Homo sapiens: one gene and its partners. The protein of the gene in region 2 interacts with the protein of the main gene of each other region in a pairwise test. Each region holds a gene or a part of one and is shown on either strand. Other genes may lie near its edges.

Region 1 (8,364 bases), on a different chromosome or scaffold from region 2:
GCCTGACTCGTCATACTCCTGCTTGCTAATCCACATCTGCTGGAAGGTGGACAGTGAGGCCAGGATGGAGCCGCTGATCCACACAGAGTACTTGCACTCTGGGGGCACAATGAGCTTGATCTTCATGGTGCTGGATGCCAGGGCGTTAATCTCCTTCTGCATCCTGTCGGTGATGCCCGGGTACATGGTGGTGCCTCTGGATAGCCCTATGTTGGTGTACAGGTCTTTGCGGATGTCTACGTCACACTTCATGATGGAGTTGAACGTGGTCTCGTGGATGCCGCAAGATTCCATACCCAGGAAGGAAGGCTGGAACAGCGCCTCCGGACACTGGAACCGCTTGTTGCTGATGGTGATGACCTGGCCATCCGGCAGCTTGTAGCTCTTCTCCAGGGAGGAGGATGTGGTAGTGGCCATCTCCTGCTCGAAGTCCAGGGAGACAAAAATATGGAACGCTTCACGAATCTGCATGTCATCCTTGCGCAGGGGCCATGCTAATCTTCTCTGTATCGTTCCAATTTTAGTATATGTGCTGCTGAGGCGAGCACTAAACTGGTTTTTCATGCAGAATTACCAACATCTCTGAGGGGGTAGACAGATCTTTGGGTTCCATTTCCTCCTCTGATCTCTCCTCCAAAGACAGGTGACAGTTACTTGCGCCACATCTATGCCTAGCTCTGCAATCATCACTATACAGTAATACTACGATGGCTAATTGACCTTTCTCTCCCTCCTGCTGGAGGTGAGTCCTTTGAAGGTGACATGGTTTGGATCTGTCCCCGCCAAATCTCCTGTCAAACTGTAGTCCCCATATTGGAGGTGGGGGCTGGTGGTGGGATCATGAGGCTGGTTTTCTCATAAATGGTTCAGCACCATCCCTTTGGTGCTGTTCTCGTGATAGTGAGTTTTCCCAAGATCTGGTTGTTTAAAAGTGTGTAGCATCTCCCCCCTCACTCCCTCTTGCTCCTAATCCCGCCATGTGAGATGCCTCCCTCCCCCTTTGCCTTACACCATAACTGGAAGCTTCCTGAGGTCTCCCCAGAAGCAGAAGCCACTATGCTTCCTGTATAGCCTGCAGAAGCATGGGTCAATTAAACCTCTTTTCTTTAGAAATTATCCAGTCTCAAGTATTAGTGCAAGAATGGACTAACACAGAAGGGAACATGAACCCTTTGACAGGAACACAGTGTCTTATTCATCTTGGTCTTATGAACACCTGTACACAGATCTGAATAGAAATGGGCTATGAGCTGCTTTTGGCCCAGGTGACAAGGGATTGTGGTGCCTCCACCTCACGCTGCTACCATTCTCCGCAGAGGACCACGCCACAGATGGTGTTTTTGAGAATAAGAAAGGCTAAAGAGAGTTTAGGATCACAAGACAGGTTTTAAGAAAACCAATACATTTCCTGAGTATCCCTCCCAGTTATTTTCTTTTTTTTTGAAACGGAGTTTTGCTCTTGTTGTCCAGGCTGGAGTGCAAAAGCACGATCTTGGCTCACCGCAACCTCCACCTCCCGGGTTCAAGTGATTCTCCTGCCTCGGCCTCCTGAGTAGCTGGGATTACAGGCATGTGCCACCACCCCGGCTAATTTTGTATTTTTAGTAGAGATGGGGTTTCTCCATGTTGGTCAGGCTTGTCTTGAACTCCTGACCTCAGGTGATTCGCCCGCCTGGGCCTCCCAAAGTGCTGGGATTACAGGCCTGAGCCACCACGCCCGGCCCCTGTTATTTTCACACTAATATTTTATTTTCTTCACAGCACTCATCACTATCAGGTGCTCTTTTATTAGCTTACTTGTTTACTGTCTATCTCCTTCCACTATGACTTAAACTCTCAAAAGTCTAAAGACCATATCTCCTTTATTCATCACTGTATATTCGCATCACCTAGAACTATCTGGGAACACAGGGGTCACTTAGCACATGTGTTAGAAGAACACTGAATGAATTAATGTGCACATTTTCCTAAGATTTTATTTCACTATTTATTTTGAGACGGAGTTTCACTGTGTTGCCCATGCTGAAGTGCAGTGGTGCAATCTCGGCTCACTGCAAACTCCACTTCCCGGGTTGAGGCGATTCTCCTGCCTCAGCTTCCAGAGTAGCTGGGATTACAGGCACGTGCCACTATGCCCAGCTAATTTTTGTATTTTTAGTAGAGACGGGTTTCGCCACGATGGCCAGGTTGGTCTCGAACTACCTACCGATCCACCCTCCACTGCCTCCCAGAGTGCTGGGATTACAGGCATGAGCCACCGCGCCTGTCCCAATATTTTATTTTTAAAGAACAGATTTGGATGCTCTTATATGCATAAGTACTTGAAAACACAAAATAATTCAAGTATTTTAACATAATTCAAAAACTACGATCTTTTTAGAATCAGCAACACCTAAGGCCCCAAATGATCCCTTCTCCACATCACCACTGGCTGTTATTGATAGCGGAACAAGCTATCCCATCAGGTGAGAGTGGATAAGATGTAGTGCAAAGAGCAAGTTAGATCAGAAGACTGAGCTCTTCATGCCTTTGCTTATTGGGGTGCGAACCTGATCAAGACACTTAATGCTACAAGCAGCTCAGCTTCACCATCTGAGAAGATAACCTACCTTAGAAAATGGATGTTTAATTCTGATAAAATGGGTGTTTAAGAGCTTGGCAAACTATCCAGCACGGTGAGGAGGGGTTACGTTTATCAGCTGTCAAGGTTGAAGCAGGAGGGCAAACCACCTCTCCCCATATGAGAGCTCCTCCCAAAAGGCGCCAAGTAGTACCAGAGCACCTGCTTCTCCCCTGACAAAGGCTGATGTTACAGAAAGAACTTTGGTCTGGGAGGCAGACAACCTGGGATCTAAACCCAGTTTGCAACTGAGATGGCACGTGAGACAAAGGGTTGGACTCTCAGATCTCTGGGGGCCCTTCCAATGTTGACATCCCAGGATCTCGTGTGGTCCCAACCAAACTCCCACTCTTGCTCCCAGACCCAGCAGTATGTCTGGAATATGGTAAGCGACCAGTAAGCATTTGCTCAATGAGAGAATAAACCAGTGAATTAATAAAAATGTCTCCTCAGATCCGATAAGGGGCTCCCTCTTCTACACACTCACAGCTCGAGTCTCCCAGCCACTTGCCCTTTCCTGCTGGCCTACAACTCTCTCCCTGGCTACACCAGGTGTATTGAGAGCAGGGAGCGTGTCCCAGCCGTGTGCACAAACTGGCACTACATGGATGGCGGGGTTCTGGTGACTGGGCGAGGCGTGCGGGCCAGACCCGAGGAAAAGGCTTGCTGCGCGTTGGGGCCGGAGGCTAGCCCGGCCCGACTCCGGCTCTCCCTGGGCCCTCCTCGTCCCCAGGCGGATGCCGGAAGAGACTCACGTGAGCACCGGGATGGGCGTCCACACCACGCAGTAGGGGAAGCGACTCCGTTCCACATCCATGGCGACGCCGCCGGAGCCTTGATATTGCTTCATGTCCGTCTCGGCCGCCGTCGGCGCCTCCACTTCCGCCATCCTGGGCGGGGGTGGCGGCGGCGGCAACAAGAGCAGAGAACTCCCTTCCGCTTCCGCCATGCGGCGCGCGCCCCGCTCCGACTGGCCCCGGCTCTGGTGCCGCTCGTCCCCATGGCGTCACTTCCCGGAGATGGGGTCCGCCCCGCTTGGCCTTCCCCCGGGAATCCGAGCCGCGTTCCTCTGGGCCCGGCCAGCCCCGCCCCACTCCCTATGCGCCTGCCAGCCCCGAGTCTTTGCCGCTTATGCCCCGCGGCTGCAGAAGGGATGCTCTCAGGCAGTTCGCAGTCTAGCGCCGGAGACTTATAGAGAACTCTAATTCAGTACGCTGAGGGCTCCTAGGAGGTGTGGTACAGTCGCTATTTATTGAGCACTTCTTAGGTGCCAAGCACTTGACATGAATTGTTTCTAATCCCCATAAACTAATTAGACATCCAAATTAGGTATTCCCTCCTGTTACAGGTGAGAAACTGAGGTTCAAAAGGTGAGAGACCACGATGCAAACCCAAGTCTTTTTTTTTTTTTTTTTTTCTGAGGCGGAATTTTTTCTCTTGTTGCCCAGGCTGGAGGGCAATGGCACAATCTCGGCTCACTGCAACCTCCACCTCCCAGGTTCAGGCGATCCTGCCTCGGCCTCCCGAGTAGCTGGGATAACAGGCGCGTGCCACCACGCCCGGCTAATTTTTGTATTTTTAGTAGAGGTGGCGTTTCACCATGTTAGCCAGGATGGTCTCAAACTCCTGACCCTGTGATCCGCCCGCCTTGGCCTCCCAAAGTGCTGGGATTACAGGCGTGAGCCACCGCGCCTGGCCCAAACCCAAGTCTTATACCTCCCTTGCCCTTTTCATTCTGTGGCCCTCTCACGAGGTAGTGGTAGCATAAAGGAAGACACACACAGTTGTGTGTGCGCACGTGTGTGTGTGTGTGTGTTTTATTGTATATACAGGGAAGACTTGCTGGAAGATAGGATATTATTGAGTTGAGTCTTGATGTTTGCCATGTGGCACAGGAGTGGAAGTATGAGTGCAGCGGTACAAAGAAAGGAAGGCCGTGCAGAGCAGTGTGTGCAAGAGTGTGAATACTTACTGGAGTAAATCATAAGCCTTAGATGTGATCCAATCCCTTCATTGTACAAATGGGAAAACGGGCTCAGGGAAGTTAATTGTTTGAGATCACACACAACCATAATTAGAGAGAAGCCAGGCTCAAATGTTGGAGACTTTTGGCTTTTTAAAGGATGTCAAGACAAAGAAAATGAAGTCTACTGGGGTCTACTGGGGTGGGGAGGGGAAGTTGGGGACAGCCCAAAGTCAGAAGGAAGGCTGCCACTAAAAATCAGCCTTAAAGAAAAAAAAAAAAGAATAAAAAGAGTAATCAGGTAAAGGAAGGTATGGACAAATGCACTCAGGAAGTTAGGAGCTTCCCATTTGGGGAAGGTCCTTCTTCCACTGAATTACCCTCCCTCAATGCTGATCTATGGAGAGCTTGCTGTCCTGTTTGTAGCACCTAATATTTTCATGTTTTTTTGTGGGGGATGTCTGTCTCTGCTATAGAACTCTAAGGTCCTTGACTTCAGTAGCTGGCACAGTTCCTGGTGCAAAGCATATGCCCACTAGATGTTTACTGATTTATTAGGTGATTGAATAAATGGATGTTTTATAAAGACCTCAGAGATTCGCAGGCATGATAATGATTACAGTGGGTTAGAAAATGATTCTAACCCACTCCAAATTCTTTGAGCACGTTTGTACCTCTCCTTGACCCCTGTGCAGTGTGTGATCCTTGAAGGGCAACAACCAGCATCCAGCACAGGGTTTGGAATAGATTAGGTGTGTAGTTTACAGTTGTTGAGAATAAATTACATGACTTCTTGATTCAATCACTGTAGTTATCTAATCTCTTCTGGACCACAGGCTGTGAGGAAGGTCTGTGCCTTAGACATCTCCCTACCATGACTGTCAGCCCATAATTCTAGCACAGGGTTGCTGGGTACCCTTTAAACATTTATTGTAGGTATTGATGAATAAACAACCAAAGTAAGTCTCTCAGGGCCTGCCACAAGTTTGGTAGTACTAATACACGTACCACATTTAATCTGCCAAACTTCAATGGCTTCCCGTTGCACTTCGTATGAAACACAAATATCTTACTATGGCTCACAAAGCCCTGCACCATCTGGACCCATGCCCCTTCCTTATTTACTATACTACAGCCATCCTGGCCTTTTCTTTCAGTTCCTCTCATGCACTCCTTCATATTCCAGGGACTTGGCACACACTGTTCCCCTCTGCCTGAAATACTACTCCTATCTACTTAAAGCGGCTAACTTTCATTCTTCCAGTCTCAGATCAAATATTACTTTCTCAGCCCATCCCTGGTCTCCCAATCTAAATGAGAAAGCCCCCATTAATCTCCTGTTCTTTTTCTTCATAGCTTCTTTGTAGCTATGTACTATTTGCCTCCCCCACTTGACTGGAAACTCTATTTGTCTTGCTAACGTGTGTATACCCAATGCCCAGTATAGTGCCTAGTGCATGGTATTTGTTTAATCAATATTTGTTAAATTGAATGAAAGGCAAATACTTACAGGCTTGGTATCACGTGCTGGTTACAGTCTAAACGCAGGAACCTGCTACCTCTTGGTGTCCCAAACCTTTTCAATGGGCTTGGGTTGGTGGGAACAGTGCTCAGGCAGAGGATCAGACCACAGAGCCCTGGCTCCTTTCCTAAGGTCCACGTCATCCTACCCTTGGCCTAGGCAGCTGCAGAAACGTGGCATGAGGAGGGCCGGGTACCTGGAGGTAGAAGCCAGATCCTCTGGTGCCTGTCCCACAGGCTTGCCCCGCACCACAACCCATCCACAAGATTTTTTTTTTTTTTTTTTTTTTTTTTTGAGACAGAGTCTCACTCTGTCACCAGGCTGGAGTGCAGTGGCACAATCTTGGTTCACTGCAACCTTTGCCTCCTGGGTTCAAGCAATTCTCCTGCCTCAGCCTCCCCGAGTAGCTGGGACTACAGGTGCGCAACACCACACCCAGCTAATTTTTGTATTTTTAGCAGAGATGGGGTTTCACCATGTTTGGCCAGGATGGTCTTGATCTTTTGACCTTGTGATCCACCTGCGTCAGCCTCCCAAAGTGCTGGGATTACAGGCATAAGCCACCGTGCCCGGCCTTTTTTTTTTTTTTTTTTTTTTAAATAATGGATTCATCCCTGCAGAACACTCCTTCTCACATATACACCTTGGTTCTCTCACCCAATTGTAAGAGTCTCTCTGGCCTGTGCCCTGGACTCCTCTGCTGTTGCTTCCTTATCACCCATAAACAGATGGGAAATCTCCATCAAAGACTAATATTTCCTTCCAGGCTCACAGGATCACAGCAGGGTCCTGGAGGAAGCTCCTGTTATGGCTGAGCTTGGGACAGGATTGATAGGTTTCAGAGCTATCCCTCCCCCAACACACACCCCAACCTAAAATAGGAATGACCATCTGGATCCACTTATGGGTTTGGCTGGGGGAGGGAAGGATGCCAGAGCTGAAACTGTCAAGCTGGGAAACCTTTGAGGGTAAGATGCTGCTTGTTTGAAGGGTGAGCTTGGGGCATTTCCTCTCTTGGTGGGAGTCAGCGCACCCCCTCAATTGGCCCCATGTATAAGTCCCCAGGACTCACAAATCTCCTCTTTCAGGATATCTCGCTCCTGGCATTCAAGGCCCCTCATGATGCCCTCAAATTTTCCTTCCAGCCTCATTTCTCACAGTCTCCTTCGGGACTTGCCTGGAGTTAGCCTCACTGGCCTGTTTGCCCTTCACAGAACAAGTCCTGCACTTCATACCCTGTGTGTTGGCTCACACCATTCCCTCATCGGGGATGTCCTTCCTTTCCTCTTCTACACTACTTTCAAGGTTTCAGGCAAATGCTCCCTCTTTGCTCCCAGAGCACGAAGGCTGTGTTTCCACCTATTGAATATTCATGTGTACTTGCATTAGCATTAGCTGTTTACATGTCTGTCGCTCCCAAGAGACTGTGAACTCCTTGAGAAGGGGACTAACTGGATCTATTGGTCCCTGTATCCAACTAGGCAACTGGCAGAGAGGAAGTGCTCAGGTAATGTCACTGGAGTTATTTGTTGACTGTAGATGTCTCCTTAAGGGCTCTGGGGAAGAATCACCTCAATCCAGGGAAAGAGCCTGAGCCAGGGGCATGCTGCAGTATATGCAGCATGTGGGAGGACAGCGTACTCTCTTCTGCTCAGCTTCATCATTGCCCTCTCTGGCCCCTGGAAGCTGGGCCTCTTTCCATTATGACTCCAAACCTTCCCATGGTGGGGAGGAGATTAAGGGGACCAACTCAGTGCAATAAACTATTTCAGAGCAAACCCACTGGTCCTTTAGACATCAGAGTTCACAAAACGACTTCCTTTTCCATTCCATTTTTTTGTTTTATTTGGAAATGGAGTCTCCCTTTGTCACCCTGGCTGGAGTGCAGTGGGGCCATCTCGGGTCACTGCAACCTCTGCCTCACGGGTTCAAGTGATTCTCCTGCCTCAGCCTTCTTAGTAAGCTGGGATTACAGGTGCACACCACCACGCCCAGCTAATTTTTTTTTTTTTTTTTTTGAGATGGAGTCTTGCTCTGTTGCCCAGGCTGGAATGCAGTGGCACTATCTCAGCTCTCTGCAACTTCTGCCTCCCAGGTTTAAGTGATTCTCCTGCCTCAGCCTCCTGAGTAGCTGGGACTATAGGTGTGCACCACCATGCCTACAGATTTTTGTATTTTTCGTAGAGACTGGGTTTCACTGTGTTAGCCAGACTGGTCTTGAACCCCTGACCTCAGGTGATCCACCCACCTTGGCCTCCT
Region 2 (7,000 bases):
CAGTTGTGTGGTTTCTCTGGCCCTTGCCAGTAGGTTTCCTGCTAATGTTTTCCTTCTCTCTCTGCAGAAACTGAGAAGACAGATAATTTTTCCATTCATTGGTGGCCTATTTCATTCATTGGTGTTGGACTGGTTTTATTAATTGTTTTGATTCCTTGGAAAAAGGTAAGGGGCTCCAAAGCAAAGTTCAGCCCTGTGTCTTGGGCTAGTAAAAAGCTTTTAGAGCAGCTGCTGCCAACCTTACAAGCCTCAAGGGACAGGCCTGCTGGAAAGGACTTTGTCAGTCCCTCTTCACCATCAGGTGTTGGGAATGTTGGCTGTGTTCCAATCCAGTTTCCTATCACAGAGGACCTAGCTGTCACATACCATCTGACCTCTGTATGGTGGTTTGTGACTCTGGGGTGATGTGTTGTAAAGCCTCCCTCTCTTTCTCCATACTAAACAAGTATTATATCTCTGTGAATGAACCAGACTTTAGTGTTCAGACCAGGCCCTGAACTATGTGTGGACTGCTTGTTTTTCTCACACATTTAGAAACTATGGCTTAGAGAGGGGAATTCCTCATATTTTATCTGATCAATAACTGACCACCAGATCTCACTAGTTTGACTAAGAATTTCTAACCCTCACTAGGTATTTCTAAACTAAAACATGTTTCTAAACATTTTTATCCCTGACTATGGCCCAAATAGTAAATAAAACAGCTCAAGCTTTAGAGGCCCAAGAGACCTATGTAAATGTGTTGGTTAAAATAGTTTTAGATAATAAAAGGGCCCTCAATTATTTATGGGCCTGTCAAGGCAAAATCTGCACAACAGCCAGTACATCTCATTATAAATAATTTAGGAGAAGTGGAATAATCAGTCAATTAAGAAAAATGGCCCTTTATCTAAAGTTGGCCATTTAGATTCACGGGACTTATTCCTGTTGGATCTAGGCCATGAGAAAACTGGATAAAAAGTGGTTTTCAAATGTTTCTTGTGGTATTTGTGACTGTTGTCATATTTCTTGCCTTTCTCTGGTTCTGATATTCAGGTGCTATTGAGAGAGGAGGAAGGAAGAAACTAGTCAGGCAGGCAGTTAGGGTGGGCCCTCAGTCAAATTCCTTCAAACAAAAGAACAGCCTGAAAAATCAAACTGCAGATAAGGGAACTTGTACAGGGGGGCTTGCCTAAAACATGCCCACAGCCACATACATTAAAACAAGGCTACACAGGAGACTTGCCTAGACATGCTCACAATAGAAAATTCCATCCCCTGACACATGCACAGTAAGGGGAACAAAGCCACATGGAGTAACTCAAGCTAAGGGCTTGCATGCACACTACGAGGATGGGGTGGAGCTACCAGAAATGTGTGCCTTATGCCTTTGTATTCAGCTGTGAAATGGCAACCCTCTTTTGGGCCCCCTCTCTGCAGTGGAGTGCTTTCTTCTTTTGCTTATTAAACTTTCACTTCAACTTCATCTTTGGGGTCCGCGCTCCTTAATTTTCTTGGTCATGAGACAAAGAACTTCAGGTGATACCTTGGGCAATGAGAGACTGCTACATTGTGGTGCATTGACGAGACTAACATTTTGGTGCATTGGCCAGGAAACATTGGAAGGGTGAGTAGGAGCGGACCTCCAAACTCTTTACTTTCATTTCAGAGGCTTCTTGTCCTCAGATTTTTTCCTGAAGACTGAACAAAACACTGGGCCAGTTAAAAGCTTTTAGAGCGGCTGCCAACCTTATGAGACTTAAGATACAGGCTTGCTGGAGAGGACTTTGTCAGTCCCCCTTCACCCTCAGGTGTTGGGAATGTTGGCTCTGTTCTAATCCAGTTTCCTTTCACAGAGGACTTAGCTGTCACATGGGCTAGAAGGAGGTCCTGGGGCAACTGAAGGTTTCTGTTTGAGGCTACTCCTCAGTGTTACCTGAAGGTCCCTGGACTAACTCCAGCCCCCGACAGCCCGTCAGAATGTTGGCACCAGGACTTCCAGACTTTTCTATTGCATTTTCTTCCTTGCTTTTCGCAGCTACTATGTCTCCTATTCCTTCTTTGTATGCAATGTTGTGGGTGTCTTTATAGCCTGGGGAGATAATCCTGTTAAGCAAAGTCAGCAAGTGCCTTAGTAACGAGGAATGTAACTCAAATAATTGTTGTTTTTGTGATTTCCTTGAGACAGGGGGACTTCAAGATTTCAGCCTAAATTTTCACTTAGGGCCTTTTTGTCCCCCAGTGATAGACATTCATGGCACTCTATAGGGGGATGTTTCACCCCAAGTGAATACCCTTTTCTCCATCAGGTTGTTTTTCCTTCATGTAAGAGCTCAGCATTGCCCAATGAATTTAAGCATTCCCTCTATGAGACAAACTAGTTTTTTTTCTACTGGACAGCATATTATGGGGACAGCCTATTAAGCCCCAAACCTCCCTTTCTGACCTCTGCTTGGAAAGAATTTGTAGTCAGAGTTTTTTCCTAACATTTCAAACCCTATAGTGCTACCTAGTGGGATGGGATTTTTCTCTGTGAGAAGCCTTGTCAGCCCTTTGCCCAAAACCTCTAGTTCCCTGATTCCTTTCTCTCTTATGTCCCTCTTTCAGTGATCAGGCCCCATGCCCTATTTGTAAGCATAAAAACTCCTCTTTCAACAGCCAGGAAGAAGCTACCCTGGGAAGACATATTTTAGCCTCAGTGTTATCCCCATTGGAGGGAGAACAGCCATTCAATTTTTACATTCTTTTGAGGCATCTGTTCTGTACACAGCTACACTGGCATCTAAGTGAGAAAGGGATCTTGTGTTTAGAAATCAATCAGTCTCATTCTCTAGGAATTCATAACTTTGCCAGGGTGGTAGTAAGAGGATGTAAGGATAGAGTTAAGATGTTCCCTTCCTTAAAGGGTCTTGCCCCAATCCAACTACTGCACAATCTCTCCCATGGTTCTAGGGAATCTCAGGAGCCTTATGGGCCAAGTAGGTCTAGGAAACCAGCAGGGCAGAGAGCTAGGACCTTGTGCAGGTGAGCACAAGCTAGCTCCTCCGGATTCATGGGTGAAGGTCATGCTTTGATCCATGGGCAGCACCTATAATGGTCACCAGGAACCTGAGGAAATGGGAGGGAAGAGGAGAAGGGGGACGCCCCTTCCATTTTTCTCTCTGCTGTCGATCACTCCAGAAGGACAAAGGAGACTAAGGGATGCCTTTTCTCTCCTCTTTTTCTAGATATGTAACAAATCATCTTCAGCCTATACTCCTCTCAAGTGCATTCTGAAACACTGGAACTCCTTTGACACTCAGACTCTGAAGAAAGAGCACCTCATATTCTTTTGCACTCGGGCATGGCCGTCTTACCAGCTGCAGGATGGGGAGGCTTGGCCTCCTGAGGGAAGTGTTAATATTAATACTATTCAACAACTAGATGTTTTCTGCAGACAGGAGGGCAAATGGTCCGAGGTTCCTTATGTGCAAGCCTTCTTTGCCTTGCGAGACAACCCAGATCTTTGTCAGTGTTGTAGAATTGACCCTGCTCTCCTAACAGTTACATCAGGCAAGTCCATAGATGATAATTCCACAAAGTCTGAGAAACAAACCCCTAGGGAACACTCGGATGCAGTTCCGGATGCCCCAATCCTTCCTGTCTCCCCTATCTGGGAACCTCCTCCAGCCACAACATCAACAACTCCAGTTCTATCCTCCCAACCCCCAACTTTACTGTTACCCCTACAGTAAATGCCTGATGGACCTGGTGCCACTAGGGTCCAAGTTCCCTTTTCATTACAGGACCTTGGGCAAATAAGAGGGGACCTGGGCAAGTTCTCTGATGACCTGATAGATATATAGAGGCTTTCCAAAACCTAACTCAGGTGTTTGACCTTACTTGGGGTGATGTTATGTTGCTCTTAAACTCTTAACTACTACAGAGAAACAGGTAGCCCTGCAGGCAGCAGAAAAATTCAGAGATGAACAACATGTCTTCTATAGCCACTCAATAAGGAAAGAAGGTGAGAAACAACCAGCATTCACATACCCAATAGGAAGCGAGGCAGTGCCCCTTGAACAACATAATTCGGACCCCAGTGGTACCTTAGATGAGTGGCAAAGAAAACATTTTCAAATGTGCTTATTAGAGGGCCTACAGAGGACCAGAGCCAAGCCTCTTAATTACCCCAAACTCTCCATGATAGATCAAAAACTAGATGAAAATCCCTCAGCCTTTTTGGAAAGGCTGAGAGAGGCTGTAGTGAAACACACTTCCTTGTCTCCTGTTAGGTATGTTTATACCTCACATAAATAATTCAATTGAGGGACAGCTAATTTTGAAAGACAAGTTTATTACTCAGACAGCCCCTGATATCAGAAGGAAGCTAGAGAAACAGGCCATGGGATTAGATAGCACCTTACAAAACCTCCTGAAGGTAGCCACCTCGGTCTTTTATAATAGGGACCAGGAGGAGGCCCAGGGGAAGGAGAGGAAACACAAGAAAAAGGCAGAGACTCTGGTGGCCACTTTGTATAAAACCCAGTATCCCCAAGGTACACCTGCTAGTTGCTACCAATGTGGCAAACTAGGGCACTTCAAAAGGGACTGCCCAGGCAGCAAGAAGAAGCCACCTCAACCCTGTCCAGTATACAATGGGGACCACTGGAAGGCAGACTGTCCTGGGAAGCATAGGTCACTGAGTCCAGAGCCAGTCTCACAAATGGTCCAGCAGGACTGATGGGTCCTGGGGCTCAACTCCCTGGCTCCAGTGGCTCAGACTGCTGTTACTACCCGGGAGCACCAGGTGATTCTGGAGTTCGAAGGGAGGAAGGTAGACTTCTTTCTGGACACTGGAGCCAGGCTTCTGTTTTCCTCTCCAATTCAGGCCTTCGTTCCTCCCATAGCACAACCATGATGGGCATCTCAGGAAAGACTTTAACTTGATATTTTTCTCAACCTATTAGTTGCAGTCAGAGGGACCTACTGTTTACACAGGCCTTTTTAGTCATGCCTGAAAGTCCCACTCCTTTATTAGATAGAGATATTCCAGCACGTATGGGGGCCACCATCCTTATGGCTCCAGGACAAACTCCGCCTCCCCTTAGTGGAAACCAGTATTAACCCAGAGGTTTGGGCAACTCAGGGAAGAAGTGGCCGGACTATAACCACTATACCAGTCTGGATCCACCTCAAGGATCCCACTTTTTTTCCTAACCAGAGACAATACCCTCTGAAGCCAGAAAGTAGAAAAGGGCTAGACGCCAGCATTGATAACCTAAAGGCACAAGGCCTCCTTAGGCCTTGCAGTAGCCCTTGAAACACCCCAATATTAGGGGTGCAAAAATCCAATGGGGAAGGGAGACTAGTTCAGGACCTCTGCCTTATTCATGAGGCTGTGATTACGATTCATCCAGTAGATCCCAGTCCCTATACTTTGCTAACTCAAATATCCAAGGGAACTAAATGGTTCACAGTTCTGGGCCTAAAGGATGCCTTTTTCTGTATACCTTTATACCCTGACTCCCAATACTTGTTTACCTTTGAAGACCCCTCCAATCAAACCACCCAGTTAACCTGGACTGTACTGCCTCAGGGATTTAGAGATAGCCCCCACCTATTTGGGCAAGTATTGTCAAGAGATCTCTTCGAATTCTTCCATTCTCAGGTTAAAGTTTTACAATATGTAGATGACATTCTCCTCTGTGCCCCAACTGAGGAAGTTTCTTGAGACGGCACTGAGGCTCTCCTTAATTTCCTAGCTGGAAAGGGATATAAGGCTTCAAAATCTAAGGCTCAGCTCTATCAGACTTTGGTAAAGTACCTAGGTCTGGTCTTGTCAGAAGGGAACAAGAGCACTAGGCGAGGAGAGGATTAATCCCATTTCCTCCCTTCCTCTCCCCAGAACCCTCAAGCAGCTGAGGGATGCTTGGGCATTACAGGTTTTTGTAGGTTATAGATACCCAGGTATGATAAAATAGGTTGCCCTTTATATCACCTTATAAAAGAAATTCAAGTGGCTAAAACTCACTTCCTGACCTGGGAACCTGAAGGTCAAAAGGCCATTAATCAGTTAAAACAAGCCTTGCTTAAAGCACCAGCCCCCAGTCTTTCTGTAGGGAAGTCCTTTAATCTTTATGTATCATAAAGGAAAGGAATGACCCTGGGAGTTTTAATTCAAGTTCAAGGCCCAGCTCAACAGCCAGTAGGTTACTTAAGTAGAGAGCTTGACTTGGAGGCTAAAGGATGGCCAGCTTGCCTCTGAGCAGTTACAGTAGTGGCCCTGCTAGTCCCAGAGGCCACCAAGTTAACCCTGGGGAATAACCTGTTTATGCCTCACATAAATAATGTGGCAGGCTTGCTGTCCTCTAAAGCGAGTCTCTGGCTAACAGACAGCTGCCTCCTCAAGTATCAGACTTTGCTGCTAGAGGAATCTGCAGTCCAGTTAAAAACCTGACCTTGCCTGATCCCAGACACTTTCCTCCCAGAGGAAACTGGAGAAACTGAACATAATTGTGAACAGACTGTAGTACAACCTATGCCGCTAGGGAGGATCTCAAAGAAATTCCCCTAGAAAATCCAGACTGGACCCACTTTATGGATGGGAGCTCTTTTGTAGGACAGGGAGTCTGAAAAGTGGGATATGCAGTAGTCACCCTAAATAACATTGAAAATGTGCCTCTCTCACCAGGCACACACACTCAATCAGTTGAGCTGATCCCTCTCACAAGAGCACTTGAACTAAGCAAAGGAAAGACAGCTAACATTTATACTGACTCCAAGTGTACCTTTCTAGTTCTCCTTGCCCATGCTGCCATCTGAAAGGAAAGGCACTTCCTCACCGCTAATGGGTCTTGCATTAAATACCATCAAGACATCAACAGGCTATTATCCTCAGTGTTCCTCCCATGAGAATTAGTGGTCAGACATTGCAGAGGGCATCAGAAGCGGGTAGATGAAATAGCGAAAGGAAACAGGCTAGCAGACCAAAGAGCTAAGTCAGCAGTAAGAAGGCCCCAAGGTCCCAAAACACTTGAGG
Region 3 (8,353 bases), on a different chromosome or scaffold from region 2:
TGAATTTTGGCTGGGCTTGGTGGCTCATGCCTGTAATCCCAGCTCTTTGGGGGGCTGAAGCAGGAGGACCTCTTGAGGCCAGGAGTTCAAGACCAGCTGGGGCAACACAGCAAGACCCTGTATCTAAAACAAACAAAAAAGCGTTCCATGCAAAAATCAACTGGTTCAGCTCGTAACTCAAACAATTGCACAAGTGCTTTTCCTAGAAACAACTATCTTACTTCAGCGTACATAAGTGCTTTGTGTATACTTCCAATTTTGTCATATGTAATATTAAAAAGACATACACTCAAGGGTCAAAATTCAATTAATATAAATTAATGCTACATTGAGGACCCTCTGAGGTAAAACTGGCTTTCTCCCCCCTGAGAGTATGACGAATACAACTACTAAGAAAATGTGGTACACTGCACCAGTAATTTTACTCACCATCAGTGCAAATGTCAACATAGTGAGAAAAGTAAACATTCTTCGTATTTGCTATGATACATGTTTATGTCCCCTCCAAAAAAATTCATATGTTTTAAAATTATAATCTTCAAGGTGATGGCATTAGGAGGTGGGGCCTTTGGGAGATGATTATGTCACGGGGAGAAGCCCTCATGAATGAGATTAGTGCCCTTGTAAAAGACGCTCCAGAGAAAAAAACGCCTTTCCCCTTTCACCATGTGAGGTCACAGAGAGACCATAACATCTGTGAACCAGAAAGAGGGCCCTCACCAGACACTGAATCTTAGGTTTGATCTGCCTTGATCTTAGGCTTCTCAGCTTTCAGAACAATGAGATATAATTTGTTGTTTATATGCCACCCAGCCTGAGGTATTTTGTTATGGCAGCCCAAACAGACTAAGATAATATTACTGTTAAAATATTCCTCATGTTCTCTAATAGGATTTCAGGAACCGTAGGGGTCCACAGACCACAGTTTGAGAACTACTGACCTAAAAGATCACTAATGTCCCTCCAGCTCTAAAATGCCTATGAACAGTCAACAACTTTCATTTGTAGAACTATACAAAACATTCGTTTCCCTAGATAAGTAATATATCACATTTAACAAATACACCAGTTTCTTACAAATCTTTTGTATCAACTGATCCTGAGGACAAACTCATGAGGTTGTGAAATAGAAACTGTTTCTTCCTTCCCCCCAAAACATCATGAGTTTATTTACATATTTTCCACCCTCCAACTTTTCTAGGTAGCAATGTGTTTTGGCCAGACGCAGGGCAGGGAGAGGTGGTTGTGTGAGTGACTGGACTAACTCTACGTTTATGTCCGTATACCACTTGCCAATGTACTGGTGTAGGCATATACATATAACACGATTTCAACCAATGATAAATAAGAGGTGTTTTCAGGGTGGTGCTGTGGGACTCCTTAGAAAGTTTCCATTGCTAGTAAAAAGAGATACACATGAATAGTTCATACTCTCTTTCTAGTGGGCATTGCAGTGTCTGCATGTGATTCCTGGAACTGCAGCAGCCATCTTGAGAGTATGAGGGGCACTAATATTAGAGGGCAAGTTGATAGGCAGAGTATGGCAGTACAGAAAAATGGAACAAACTCTGGCCCTTACTAGTGTCATTATTTGGCTGAATTAATTAACTTTGGAGATAATCAACCTCCAAACTTCTTGTTATGTGAGCTAAAAATTGTTTTTATTGTTTAAGACAGATAGTGTTTTTTAGCACTTGCAAGAAAAACAACCTATCTAATATAAACAGACACCACCATGACTATCTTCCACATACAGAAACATTTTACTACATCAATTAAATTGTGAGAATATGGACAGAGAAGGACCAGTCCTCCTTTAGCAAGCTTTTGGAGGGCTTGTAAACACAGAATATACTAAATAATTCATCAGTCATGTCCCACTCCTAATACCACTGCCCCTCTCAAAGTTCCATATCTCTTTCAGTACTCAATTAATGTCATATACACTGTAAGAAATTTTGAAAGCAAACCAGCCAGTTCTCCTATATACAGGAAAAATATTATTTGATTGAATTATAGCATGATACAAATTCCTTAACAGAATTTCTTGAAGTCTTATTTTATTACTGTCAAAAACACAATTCCATTAACCAGAATAGAACTTGCTTGTAAATGGTACTTACATTCTCTACAAGTTAGTAAGCATCTGACATTTATAACAGATTCATTAAAATAAAAAAGTTAAAAATTAAATTTAGCAAAAGCCTGTTTCTTTTATAACATTTGCCTTTGACTGTCTTTAATTAATGAAAAGCAAGGGATTTAAGGTTCCCATTTCAACAGGGTAGCAAGTACCATCATAGACTGCCCTTTTGGTTAAAGGCCAGCAGAAGCTGCTAAAGGCACAAAGTGTGGGTGGACCTGGACAGACTATGGAGGTAAATAAGTTCAAGTTGCATAAAATGAGAATCTGGTTTGTTAAAATGAAAGAAGCCTATGTGTCACATATCACACTGAAGGTGTTTCTCTAAAATCCTCAAGAATTACTGCTATTTAAAAACAAATCTTTATAATAAAGATTTAGCTAAGTGTCTGGGTGGTTCATTTATAATGTTAATTAGAAAGAATACATTTTCAAAAATTACTTCTGTTCCGTAGCTGCTATCATCACAAGGGGATGAGATGATGGAATGATTACATTTGTAAAAGAAAATCATTAGAGACTAAGACCAAATCAGCCAACCAACTGGCAATCAATTGAGCATCAATTCCATAGTCACTGTAGTAGATAGGAAAGAAAAATTAAGTCTGTCTCACAGGCACTCTTATACACTACTGATAGGAGTATAATTGGTAAAACCATTCTGGAAAGTAATTTGGCAAGAGCAGATCCCTATCACTCAGGAGCTTAAAGTTCAGCTATTCAAATGCCACCTGGAAAAACCACAATGCATAACAGTTTGTGACTTTGCAGAGAAATAAATTTCAATTGCGCAAGCTATAGGGCTGGCAAACAGGCAATGATGTCATTTGGCTACTGAGGAAATGTGAGGAGAAGGTAAAGTGAGTATGTTACAAATTGGGAGTGGTACAAAATGGATGGGGGACCTCACATTCCGTATGTACTAACCAGTTTAATTTTCTAAAAAGAGGGAATTGAGGCTGTGATATTATCTCCCCAAAGTGGAAAAAAAAGATTAAGAATTAATGAAGGGAAGTTTCTGAGTATCACTAAGGGAGAGATGAAAGCTAGGGACAATACTAGGTAAAGACACAGCCATTTAAGTGTAAGCCTGAAAGACAGCTACAGTGCAGGGGCTGGTGAGAGGGGTGGGGAAAGTGGTCAGAAGGGGCTCTCATTTCAGATGCATATGCACAAAACTCTTCTGGGGGAGGGAGAATGTCAATGAATTTGAGTATGTTATACCACTGTTATAGCTGGGAAGAGATCAGTAGGAGAGGTATTTGTGGAGGGCAAGCTCCACCTTCTGCCCAGGGGAGAAAAGTAGGAGGATATATTGTGCACAAAATTAAAATTTAAGCCCTTAAGGATGAACGGCCTAGGCAGTTATGGTAAAGACTTATTAAAAGATGAGCCAATGGAGAGTCTTTCTTCAGAATCATCTTAAGTGACCAGTCACAGAAGGGTTTACAGAAAGGGCAATGAGAATTATTCAACTTTTCATCATGACTTTACTTTTCTCTATTATCTACCATGTATGAAATAGGGATTGAGGAGAATCTCATGAGCAGGTTCTAGAGCCTTGGTTTAAATCTTGGCCCAATCATGTATCAACTGCACGACCTTTGGCAAGTTATTTAACCAATGTGGGCTTCTGATTCCTTGTATATAAAAGTGGAAATAACATTAGCTACCTAACAGGATATAACATAGTAACCACTAAAAAAGTTACCATAATTTCTCTGTTGATATAGCCTTTTTAAATATCAGGGTCTACTGTATGTATCAAAGACTTGAAAAATACTTATAGCGTTTAACCCACTAATTCCCCATGAAGGCGGCTGTAGCAATAAAATAATAAAAATATGGAATAAGAAATGTTCATGGCAGCACTTCTTACGATGGCTAACAAATCTTGACATTTTAAAATATACTCTACAAAAGTGAACAGGTAAATAAATTGGAGTGTGTATAAATACAAGTTGTATGTAATCATTTTAAAATAACGTTTTAAAACTAAGAATGTTAACATGGGAAACTGCTTGATAAGTGATCAAACAGTAAGAAATAAAACTATATGTAGAATAAGCCCAACTTACTTTTTTATTTTAACCAACTTTTTTTTTAGTTATTAGCTAGTGTTTATTTAATCAGGTTTTTTAGTATTTTAAAAATTCAGTATCTTCATGAAATGAAAACTTTACCATAGCAATTGAAACATGAATTGTGCTTAGAGTTTCGTGATTCACATCCAAACCTTAACATATCATTTACAATTCAAAAATTGTACTCTTACAAGTCATTGTTCTATGCCAAATTTATTTTTAAAAACATATTATATATATAGGAAAGAAAATAGTAAAAACAACAATAATCAAAACACACACCATTATTCTGTGCTCAGCCAGCACAGTTCTGGCCTGCTGGTAGAACTGTGGACATATTTTTATTTTCTTTATGTTTTTCAAGTTTCCAACATTGAGCAGCTGTTACTTTTGTTACCATATAAAATCAACATATGAATTGGTTGAATGAACAAATATATAGTTATTGCTTCAAAAGGGACTTTAATCAAATAAAAAGAACAGATAAAATGTCATAAAACAAAATGCCTATAAGACCAAATACATGCAGATACGAAACTGGGAGAGGCTAAATATTACAAATGTTCAAAGAAAGGTACAATCAGTATTTGATACTATAATAAGGGAAAGTTTCACAGGACTATTTAGCTATTCTCACCAGTATGTAAACACCATGAAGGGAAGAACCTTGTCTTTATTTGGTTTTAGCCATAGTGTCTAGCACAAAATGATTTTGTAGGCAGTACACCTCCATGAATAGAAATAGAACAGCATAAATAGAATTTTTGAGTACTTAGAAGTTGCTGAATAAATATCTGCTGAATAAATGTAAACATTTGCTGGAATTGAGCAAAGACTTGAATCCACAAAATTCTAATCAAGATGGAGGGCCAAAATGTGTATGCAGTGCTCACGGGATTGTAGGAAAGCTTACCTAGGCTAGACTGGAGGGAGTATATTATAAACTGTAATGAAAAATAAGGTTGGATAAGGGAAAAGATCATGATAGGCCTTGAAAATCAGACAGGAGATTTGAGAGTTGATGTAGTAAGAAATGGTAAGTCAATAAATATAATGACAATAATGAAATCTAAAATTGATTTAACATTTACTATGGTGTCAAATACTATATGTTTTACATAACTTTTCTCATTTCATCCTAAAAAAAAAAATATGTGAGATAGGTGCTACGGCCTTCCTTTTGCCAATGAGGAAATTAAGTCTCAAAGATTACTATTTTGCTGAAAGTTACACATCTACCAGTCAGATTCCATGTCTGACTTCAGAGGCCAACCTCTTGAAGACTCTGTATAAGACCTCTACAAAGTCCACAAAACGTGTGAAGAGAAATACCAGAAGAGAATGAGATCATGTATATTTATTCTAGGGTCTTGGACTGGAATCAGATGTATCATTATGAATCCATGATTTTGACATATATAAAGAGGGACTTCAAGAAATCGATATAGAAACAGGTATGTGTGCATATATACATATATTTCCTAGTTCTGCCTGCTGAGAGGGCCTAGAGGCAATGACACCTCAGTAGCAATAAGCATGCCAAGCACCCAGATCTTGGCTTCTACATACCATTCTCCAATAAAAAGAATCAGAGCTCCTTGGAGAAAAGATTCTGATTCCAGAGTTGGGGCAAGGAAATTAAAAAATGAGTCTGGAGGCCAGGTGCGGTGGCTCACGCCTGTAATCCCAGCACTTTGGGAGGCCAAGGCGGGTGGATCACGAGGTCAGGAGTTCGAGACCATCCTGGCTAACATGGTGAAACCCCGTCTCTACTAAAAATGCAAAAAATTAGCCCGGCATGGTGGCTGGCACCTGTAGTCCCAGCTACTTGGGAGGCTGAGGCAGGAGAATGGTGTGAACCCGGGAGGCAGAGCTTGCAGTGAGCCGAGATCATCGCGCCACTGCACTCTAGCCTGGGTGACAGAGCAAGACTCCATCTCAAAAAAAAAAAGAAAAAAAAAAGAGTCTGGAACATCTGTGGTGCCAGAAAGTAAGAGGGTGCTTAAAAAATGATGGAGACATGTTGAAAGGACACAGGAGCCAATTTGAAGGGGCTCCTGTTGGCCAAATCTGGGTTTCAGCAAAAACAAAAAGTAGTAAGAGCATAATTCATTATAACCTATAGAATAAAACAAATATTCATTAAGTCCATACTGCTATAAACAGCTGAATAAATATATACATTAAGCGTAAAGAGAAAGTTTTTTATTACAGTATAATTCAATCAATTAATAAATGTAAAAATGTTGAAAATTGAAATCAATGTCTGGCAAATGTCACAACAATAATTTATTCAAGCCAGAATCATCAACATATGCTAAAATTAGTGGGCAAATATATGATGAGAAACAGGATATTTACATTGTCTCACAATATTGCCCTGCATAGTCTCACTTTGTAATTACAAAAGAAAAAATAGTGACTTTATAGTGAATAAACCTAGCAGACACCATCTTAACCAAGCTTTCAGGGATGTAAAGAGTCTCATGTCTTACATGTATAGACATCAAAAGGTAAATAAAAACACATGAAAAAATACAAACTCTTACACTGCCATGGGACAGATACATATATAGATATATGCATAAGACTAAAGATATATATCTATATAGTTTGTGAATAAAATTGGATATGATAGGTAGGCAAATTAGTACAAAAAAAGAACAAAACTAAATTAAGCATGTTAAGTAAAGTGTGTTACCATACACACATACCCGGTTGTTTCACAATAGACATGCTCCTGAAAAGTTTGGTGGACTTAAAATTAATGCAGTAACTGAGTAATTAAATAATCATAAGGCAAATCTTCCTTCAAAACAAATCATCTGTCACAAATTATAGTAGTTATATAAGTTGAAATGTTTACATATTGTGATTACATAAAATCATAAAACCTTCAACAGCATTTGCTTTTAGATTGCTTTTAAATAATCTCACTCTAGATACAGATACAGAGGTCAAACTCTGATCTTTTTATTCTAGGCCCAAAGCTATTTCCATTACACCATGCTGCTTCTCCTAACATCAGCAGGAAGACATGTAACCCCCATTATCATTTCCATTTCACCTCCTGTGTCCAAAAAAAGTGGCAGAGATCCAAATACTTTACACACCAGTAAATCTCTATAGACCACATACAAAGTAGGCAGTATAGGACAGTCATTAAGGGCAAAGATTCTAGAGTCAAACTGCCTGGATTCAAATTTTCCAGCTTCACAAGTTACTGCCTACATGACTGGATTTCTGGGAATGTATTCAACGTCTGTAATTTGTAGTTTTCTCATCTGTAAAGTGAGGATAATAACGGTATATGTCTCATAAGTCTGTTCTGAAGATTAAATATGATAATATGTATTATCATATTAGCACAGTGCCTGGCACATAGTAAACACTCATTATGTTATCTACATTAATAATGATGACAATGATGACAAGTTTTTCCTATGGAGCAATATACTTCATAGAGGATGAAGTGTTTCATGGCTACAAACAACACTCCTACCCTTGATAAATTCGTGCCGCTGGTCACAAGGAAGATAGTACGTTTAAAGTAGACAAAAATATCCAATCTACTGCACAGAAAACAACTTACTAACTATGTAAAATAAAACTAACATAATTTTACATACTACCCACATCCACAAATCTAAGTGCATATCCCACTGACAGTGAATCAGTACAGGTATAATTACCTTCACATAAAAATGTTATTTCCATCACTAAAAATTATATTTCCAACTTAAAACTGTCTTCTCTTATTACTAACCTTTTGGCATAGAGGTTACTTTATTCCACCTAATGAATGCTCTACCTAAAAAAAAGATCTTCCACATATTTGTGATGTACCAATTTGGCATGATTTCAGAGATAAAGAAATCATTTACCTATAAAAGAGTAAAGCACTTTAAATAGCAACACTTTTTTGATATAAAAACCCCAATACTAAACTACTCCAGTCAAAGACTAGCCCTACCACCAACCAGTTTTACTCTAGAAATGGTCACCGATATCTCCAGCACAAGTATGCAGAGCCGATATCATTCATATTTTTGAGCCTATTAAAATATTTATGTATGAACCAGGAAAAACAAACCCTTGGTTTTAATAGAGGCACAATATCCTAATG
Region 4 (8,353 bases), on a different chromosome or scaffold from region 2:
TTTCTTAACAGAACCAATTCCCCCTGGATACCCCACCCTCACCCTACCCTCTCCCAGGCCACTCGATGGCCAGGTTCGCTGTGGATTTTTCCAGACCTGTGGGCTGTTTCACTGGTTACTTTTGTAATGAAAAATGCACACAAAGGTTACGATGAGGACGATTAGCCATGAATCATTTTTAAAAAGCCTGAAAACAAGTCCCTGGGACAGTGCTGGCTTCGTTGGAGAGACAAGGCTCAGGGGAGTGGGTGCAGCTGGGGGTCGGGGTGGGGATCAGAGAAGGGACACATTCCTTATTGTGTTTCTGGGTCGCCTTCTTTTTTTTTGTTTGCTTTATTTATTTATTTATTTATTTTGAGACAGAGTCTTGCTCTGTTGCCCAGGCTGGAGTGCAGTGGCGTAATCTTGGCTCACTGCAACCTCCTCCTCTCGGGTTCAAGCAATTCTCTTGCCTTAGCCTTCTGAGTAGCTGGGATTACAGACGTGCGCCACCACACCAGGCTAGTTTTTTATTTTTAGTAGAGACGGGGTCTCACCATGTTGGCCAGGCTGGTCTCGAACTCCTGACCTGAGGTGATCTGCCTGCCTCAGCCTCCCAAAGTGCTGAGATTACAGGTGTGAGCCACCGTTCCTGGCCTTCTGGGTCACCTATAGGGAGGTCTCCAAGAACAGAAAGACACCCTGAAACCCACTGGCTCGACCACCACCTCATAGATGGGGACACAGAGGCTCAGGAGATGAGATACCTTGGGGCAGCGATGGGTCTGGGGTCTTCGGGCCAGGAGTGAAGCCTCACAAGACCTGGAGACCCTGGGTCCCACCCTCAGTGGGGAAGGGCTCAGATTCTGCAGGGCCCGATGCTCTGTGGGGGCTGGGATGTTGCCGCGGCAGGTGGAGAGAGTGATGCTACTGGCCCTGAGAGAACCTTCTGGCACCGTTCAGAGGTGGGGTGGAGTGGCCTGCGGGTCCAATCCTGGCGCCGCAGGCTCTATGAGCCCTGTTTCAGATGAGGAAGGAGGCTGAGACGGGCGGTGACACAACTCCTGGCAAGTGGTCACGCGGCCCAGAGCAGCCCGGCAGACACCCAGCTCAAAGGGAGGGGTGGGGTGGGTTTTGGAGTCACTCGGACCTAGAAAGTTCTGTGACTTCTCATGTCTCAGTTTCCTCATCTGGAAAATGGGACCAGTCACGAGTCCACCATGGAGGCCGAGTGGGCCGTGTGGCTCAGGGAGAAGCAGCTGGTCCCCTGTGGCTGCTGTGGGGACTGAACAAGGCGGTGACCGTCGGGATGAGCACGGACTCCACCACGCAGGCCCCTGCCTACCAGAGGCCTGTGCACAACCAGAGCTGAGCAAGGCTTGGAACCTTCTCCTGCCTCTACGTCCTGCGCCCTCTACCCTGCCCCGATCTTGCCCCTGTTTTGGGGGCGCTGCTCCGTGCAGGGCATTTTCACCTGTGGAGTGTCCAGGGGCTCTCGTGGCTGATAAGGTCTCGTCACAGGTCCAAGCCTTGAGGCCCTGTCTTCCCCTGGAGGAAATGGGGCTAGTGGCCCCACACTGATACCCACAACCCCTCTCTTCTCTGGAGTTTTCAGGGAAACGTTGTTGTCCCACCCCTTCCTCCCTTGAGCTACCCCAGCCCCCCAAGAAGCAGACACAGCGGGTTTACCCACCTGACGTTGGAGGAAGCCAGGCCCAGAGACGAGCCTTGGATGGAGGCAGAGCCGAGGTCTGGATCCCGATTCGCTTTCTGAAGGAGACAAATAAAGGGTGTATAGGTGGCTTCACCCCTCTGCCTGAGCCTGAGTCCTGTCCCTGCCATGTGTGCCCCCTGGCCTGGCCCACCCCAGCTTTCCCTGGACTCATCCCAGAGCAGATATCTGGATCCTGCCTAGCCTGGCTCAGCATGACTCATCATGGTGGGTACCGCCCCTGCCCACCTGTTCCCCATTTGGGCAATTCAGGAGCTGGGCAGTTCCCCAGAGGCCCTAGGAAACTCCCCGCCCCCGACCAGGCTTTCTCCTTGTGGGGCATCTGACCGCCTGTTTTCTGGTGGGGCAGACCCTCTGAGCCCCTTGGCCCTGTGGGTCATAACCACAGCCAGGCCTGAGAAGGGGGCAGCCTGGGGTGGGAGTGTGAGCACGGGACTCAGAACTGGCTTCAGACCCTGCTCTCTTGCTGTGGCCTTGGGAAAGCCACCATGCCTCTGTGACTTTTATTCGTTCCATACAACGGGGGACCTGGATGGTGGTCTCTAAGGCCCTGTCAGTGGGAACACTGGGTGAGTCCCATTGTGATTTCCTGGGGACCGAGTGTGTGCCTGGCCCTGGCTGGGTGCTGGAGCCAGGTGACAGAATCGTGGGGAGTTCTGCCACGTGCTACAAGGTGAGGACCTCTAGAACATGGCGCTCAGTGAAGGAAGCCAGACACGAGGGCCACACACTGCGTGATTCCATTGATACCAAATGTCCAGGATGGGCAAGTCCCCAGAGAGAAGTCAGATTGCTGGCGGCCAGGGGTGGGAGGGAGGGGGAGGGGAACCACTGCTGATGGATACGGGGTTTCTTTTAGGGGTTGAAAATGCTTTGGAACTTGATACAGAGGGTGGTTGCACAACATTGGGAATATACAAATGCTGCTGAATGGTGCACTTTAAAACGGTTAATTTTAGGCTGGGCACGGTGGCTCACGCCTGCACTGGGGGTTTCCATTTGTGGCATGAACATCACTGAAAGCGCACCAGCTTCCATGTCGTATCAAGGGGTTCGGGATGTCCACGTGTCTTATGCTGGTGGTATTAACCTTGCTCGCCTGGACAGGGACACCTGTGAGTGAGAGCAGGCCATTAGTGTGGGGCAGGTGGGCCTCAACTGAGGGTGTCCTGGGAAAAGGCACGTACAGGCACCCTGGTCCGGCTCGTTTCCAGTGGAGGCTGAACGAGGCTCCTTATGGTTCCCCCACAATGTCACTCAGCTGTGGACTCACGCAGGCTCCAGCAGAGCAGCGGTTATGTCTTGGTTGCCCAGATGAGCAGTAGGCTGAGCTGGCCTGGGCTTACCTGAGAGGATGTAGTGGGAGGCTGAGCTGGGAGGTGGTCCCAGGGCTGTGGTCCAGAGCTCCATATCCACTTGGCGGTGGTGCAGGGCCAGTGCTCAGCAGTACCTCCTGCCCCAGGGAGGGTGGCCTTTCATATGTGTAGTGACATCAGACCCCCATCCCCACCCCATGAGCACGTGTACCCTGGAAGCTGGAGGGCGGGGCAGGAGGGCGGGGCGGGGCAGGAGGGAGGGGCGGGGCAGGAGGGAGCGGGAGGGAGAACACAGGAACGTTTCTTGCCGGGACATAGGTCACATGCCCACCCCCCCAGAATGTCCATCCTTACTGCTCATTTTTGCAGCGACCTTGGGGGATGGGGTAACTGTCCCCATTCAACAGGCGAGAAAACTGAGGTCCAGGGAGGGGAGGGAATCATAGTAAGTGGCAGCACCGGAATCTGCTGGATGCCTGACACTCTGTTCCTTTAAAACGTGCCGGGCGCGGTGGCTCACGCCTGTAATCCCAGCACTTTGGGAGGCTGAGGCAGGCAGATCAACTCAGGTCAGGAGTTTGAGACCAGCCCGGCCAACATGGTGAAACCCTGTCTCTACTAACAATACAAAAATTAGCCCGGCATGGTGGCACATGCTGGTAATCCCAGCTACTTGGGAGGCAGGAGGCTGAGACGGGAGAATCCCCTGAACCTGGGAGGCAGAGGTTACAGTGAGCTGAGATCGCGCCATTGTATTCCACCCTGGGCAACAGAGCAAGACTCTGTCTCAAAAAAAGCGCATATCTATGTTATCCATTTTTTGCCAAAATTGGGGTCATTCTGTAGTCAATGTTATATTCTGCTTTCTTCGTGTTATGTTGAGAACAACTTTCTCGTTACTAGAAAGCCTTCAGAAGCTTGGTTTGTGGGGGGCCAGTCTTTAATAGTCCCTGGCTGCTGGGCACTGAGGTTGCTTCTGTGCTCACCCAGCTCCATGGATCCCAGGCCAGCAGCCGCCCCTTCTCCCTGGGGCCAGATTTGCCCTTTGCCCTTTGCCCCTGCCAAAGCCCAAGTTCAGCACAGTCTCTGCTGACACCCCTCTACCCCCGCTTGGCTGCCTCCATGTCCCCTGGACTGCTTGTCTCTCGTGTTCCCCTGGGACGAAAGTGCTCAGTATTCTTCCTGTGGCATCTCCTCCCTGGTCCCTGGTCAGAGGGTCCCTTTCTGAGGTCCAGGCTCCCTCAGCACCAGTCTGTGCCCACTCAGGGCCTCCCCAGCCCTGTGCCCCCCTGGGTCCTAGCCCTCGCCCCAGCAGGCCTTGCTGCAAGTTGGCAGAACTGAATCGGGTTGTGTGGCTTCTTGTCTCAGACAAGAGCAGACGACTCCTGATTCTCCACCTAGAATCAGAGTGAGTGGGAGCTTAGCCCTTTGTTTTTGGATGAGGTCAGGGTGGGAGCCATATTGCCACCAGGGCAGAGCCTGGGCCAGAGTGCAGTGTGGCCCCAGGCAGGCTGCTCTCTGTCTCCGGTGCATGGGGAAGGGGCGGTGGTTTTACTGGGGCCCGTGTGGGGTGCTGAAACAGCTGTGTAGAGACCTTCCTTGCTGCTGTGCACTGAGCTGTGCTCAAGGTAGGTGAGCATTGATATCCCACTCTACCGAGGGGGAAACTGAGGCCCTGAGTTGATGTGATTTGCCTGAGGTCACAGTGAGGCAGTGAGGAAGGGGATTAGACCCAAACTCTGTCTGATACCAGTCACCAAATGAATGAGTGAGTGAGTGAGTGAGTGAAAGGTGAATGTGAAGTGCTGGAACGTAAAGCACTGGCCTGGCAGAGCTCCCAGGACGGGGACTTGACCCAGGGAGGCAGGCTGGGAAGGCTTCTTGGTGGAGGGGACCCAAACTGGCCTTGGAAGAGAGGAGGGGTCAGTGCCAGAGACCCAAGGTCGAGGTGAGGGTGGGCAAAGGTGAGGCGAGGCAGCTGGGGCAGGAGCAAGGCTGGAAATGCGTTCACTCAGCCACTCCCACCCCGCACATCTCTGCGCCTCCTGATCAGCTGACTGGTTGATCTGTGGGTGACAGGCCTTTCGGGGATGCTGGAGGAGACACGGGCCTGACCCCATGGCCTCAGGAATGCCCTCACCCAGCCCTGTCTTCTCTTTCAGAGCTCCCCTGAACAGCAGCTGCAGCAGCCATGGCCCCGCCCTGGGTGCCCGCCATGGGCTTCACGCTGGCGCCCAGCCTGGGGTGCTTCGTGGGCTCCCGCTTTGTCCACGGCGAGGGTCTCCGCTGGTACGCCGGCCTGCAGAAGCCCTCGTGGCACCCGCCCCACTGGGTGCTGGGCCCTGTCTGGGGCACGCTCTACTCAGCCATGGGGTAGGTGGGCGTGCACTGGCCTGGGGATAAGCCTGGCCCTTTGCAAGGGGAGGCCTGGCCCAGGACAGAGGGTCTTCTCCAGGCGGGCCATGGACCATGGCATGGTTTCCCCAGCCCCATTTGGCAAGCCAGGGTGGGGAAGCTGTGGGCCTGTCGATTGCACAACTGAACTTTCTCCTCCTGGGCCCCTGGGGGGATGGGTCAGATGCTCACCCCACCCTGGCATCCCCGCCATGTTCACAGCTCCAGGCAGAGGCCGGCTTAGTGTGTGAAGGTTGGTCTTGGGCAGAGGCATGGACGCTAAGATTAACAACGGCAGCAACAGCCCCAAGAGCAGCTCCTTTGTTGAACGCCTGCCCAGTGCCAGGCTCGTCTCATTCATACTCAACGACCCCCATAATAAGAGGCCTCCCAAGGACACAGGGCTTGCAAGTGTGGACCCCCCACAGCCCCTTCAGGCTCAGTCTGGCCTGAGTCCCCTGGGAATAGACCAGGGGAATTCCACCCGGAAAGGACGTGCTGGGAGGGGCAGGGCGCCTCTTGGTGGCTGTAGCGGGGACCACACCCAGGAGGCAGGGAATTGACTGCCTTCTGAAATGTTCCCTGCATCCTGGTTCTGTGCCAGCGCAGTGCAGGGTGGGGACGCAGGTGCCAGGCACTCTAGGGGGCGGATAGCAGAGGCCAGGCCAGGTGCCCGGCTCTGATGGGAATAAGGCCCTGGAACTTGGGTGTCACGTGGGCCTCACCCCTCCTGGCCCAGGCCCTGCCCAGCCAGGGTCCTGCACTTCCCTGGCTCCAGTGTCCCCACCCTGCTTGGCCTTCCTACACCACCCAGTCCCAGCCTCTCTTCGGGGGAAATTTTGGGGCTCCCTGTGGCTCTGGATAAGGCGAACCCCTCATTAGTAGGTGACAGCCGGGGCTCTGGCCCTGGCTGACCAGACTTTATCCACTGATGGCCTGCCAAGAGATCTCAGTCACTTCACCGCCTCAGTCTCCTCACTGTAAAGGGGGTGCTGATACTGCCTGCCTTATGGCATCATCATGAGACTGAAATGAGTGAATGCTTGGGAAGTGGTAGGGCCTGGCTCCTGTGAGTGCTGGAGGGCATCGGCTGCTGTTACTGGTGGTGTTATCGTTGCCCTGTGTTAACAGCTCCCATGATCAGGCCTCCCCCTGGACCTCACCCTGCAGTCACAGACTGACTCAGGGTCTCACATCTGCCTCAAAGCCTTTGCATGTCCTGTTTCCTCCCCTGGAAAACTCCTATTCATCATTTAAGGCCCAGGCCAAATGTCCCATCCTCTATGCAGTGCCCTGGCTAGGTTAAGAGCCTCCTCTCTACCTATTCACACCATGTGCTTCCCTTTCATAGCAGTGACAGTGATAATAATGGCAGGTATTTACTGAGTGTCCTAAATGCTGGGTATCGCATGAAGCACTGCCAATGTGCTAACTAGAATCTCTACAGCAACCCTATGAAAAATGAAGGCCCAGACAGGTCAAGCAACTTCCCTGAGATCACACAGCAGTCAGTGTCAGGTCACGTATGAACCATCACTGTGCCACTCGGAGGTGGGCAACGCTCCTGGCCTTGTTCCTAATGGTGCTCTGAACTGCGGCCTCTGTTTCAGGTACGGCTCCTACCTGGTCTGGAAAGAGCTGGGAGGCTTCACAGAGAAGGCTGTGGTTCCCCTGGGCCTCTACACTGGGCAGCTGGCCCTGAACTGGGCATGGCCCCCCATCTTCTTTGGTGCCCGACAAATGGGCTGGGTAAGTGTGGCCACAGCATGTGTCCCTGATCCCTGGATCCGACCCTTGGAGGACGTGGGGCATCACATATGACACTGGGTCAGTGTCTATAGGCGGGGCCAGGGGAGACAAAAGGCCATGTCTCTCTAGCTGTAAGCAGCCCACACCCTGGAGCCTCCCCTCTACTGACTCCTCCGGTGAGGGAAGCTATTAAAGCAGAAGGGGTTGCAGGGGTGGGTTTGGGGGCCACTGTGTAGGAAAACCCACACGAAGCCTGGTACTGTGTGGGCAGGGTCACTGGCCCCTCTACATAACAGCTTCTTCTTTTTTTTTTTTGAGACAGAGTCTCACTCTCTCACCCAGGCTGGAGTGCAGTGGTGAGATCTCGGCCCACTGCAACCTCCACCTCCTGGGTTCAAGTGATTCCCTTGCCTCAGCCTCCCGAGTAGCTGGGACTACAGGTGTGCACCACCACTCCTGGCTAATTTTTGTATTTGTATTTGTATTTTTTTAGTAGAGATGGGGTTTCACTATGTTGGCCAGGCTGGTCTTGAACTCCTGACCTCAGGTGATCTACCCGCCTTGGCCTCTCAAAGTGCTGGGATTACAGGTGTAAGCCACCGCGCCCGGCTGACTGCTTCTTTTTTAAAGTTTTAAACTTTTTTAAGAGATGAAGACTCGCTGTGTTGCCCAGGGCAGACTCGACTTCCTGGGCTCAAACGATTGATTCTCCCGCCTTTACCTCTTGAGTAGCTGGGACTCCAGGTCACGTCACTGTGCCCGGCAGCCTTTTTTTTTTGAGACAGAGTCTTACTCTGTTGCCCAGGCTGGAGTGCAGTGGCATGATCTCGGCTCACTGCAGACTCCACCTCCCAGGTTCAAGTGATTCTCCTGTCTCAGCCTCCCGAGTAGCTGGGATTACAGGCATGCAGCACCATGTCCAGCTAATTTTCTGTATTTTTTTTTTTTTGAGACGGAGTCTCGCTCTGTTGCCCAGGCTGGAGTGCAGTGGCGTGATCTCAGCTCACTGCAACCTCCGTCTCCCAGGTTCAAGCAATTCTCCTGCCTCAGCCTCCTGAGTAGCTGGGACTACAGGCACGTGCTACCACGCCTGGCTAATTTTTTTATTTTTAGTAGAGACGGGGTTTTACCATATTGGTCAGGTTGGTCTTGAACTCCTGACCTCAGGTGATCCACCCGTCTC

Evidence for each region.
Region 1: the proteins of NCR3LG1 (region 2) and TMEM222 interact in binary tests that used the Homo sapiens proteins (3 or more experiments, as listed by UniProt).
Region 3: the proteins of NCR3LG1 (region 2) and COL4A5 interact in binary tests that used the Homo sapiens proteins (3 or more experiments, as listed by UniProt).
Region 4: the proteins of NCR3LG1 (region 2) and TSPO interact in binary tests that used the Homo sapiens proteins (3 or more experiments, as listed by UniProt).

Annotation. Positions count from the first base shown.
Region 1 is NC_000001.11:27,317,403-27,325,766, reverse strand, and holds the start of TMEM222 (transmembrane protein 222), read right to left. Parts: upstream 3,605-8,364; 5' UTR 3,570-3,604; coding exon 3,376-3,569; intron 1,894-3,375; exon of another isoform or gene 1-1,893.
Region 2 is NC_000011.10:17,368,800-17,375,799, forward strand, and holds part of NCR3LG1 (natural cytotoxicity triggering receptor 3 ligand 1 precursor), read left to right. Parts: intron 1-67; coding exon 68-165; intron 166-3,206; coding exon 3,207-3,713; 3' UTR 3,714-7,000. UniProt on the Homo sapiens protein: Triggers NCR3-dependent natural killer cell activation.
Region 3 is NC_000023.11:108,442,049-108,450,401, reverse strand, and holds part of COL4A5 (collagen alpha-5(IV) chain isoform 2 precursor), read right to left. Parts: intron 1-8,353. UniProt on the Homo sapiens protein: Type IV collagen is the major structural component of glomerular basement membranes (GBM), forming a 'chicken-wire' meshwork together with laminins, proteoglycans and entactin/nidogen.
Region 4 is NC_000022.11:43,154,021-43,162,373, forward strand, and holds part of TSPO (translocator protein), read left to right. Parts: exon of another isoform or gene 1-1,918; intron 1,919-5,189; 5' UTR 5,190-5,218; coding exon 5,219-5,400; intron 5,401-7,031; coding exon 7,032-7,170; intron 7,171-8,353. UniProt on the Homo sapiens protein: Can bind protoporphyrin IX and may play a role in the transport of porphyrins and heme. Promotes the transport of cholesterol across mitochondrial membranes and may play a role in lipid metabolism, but its precise physiological role is controversial.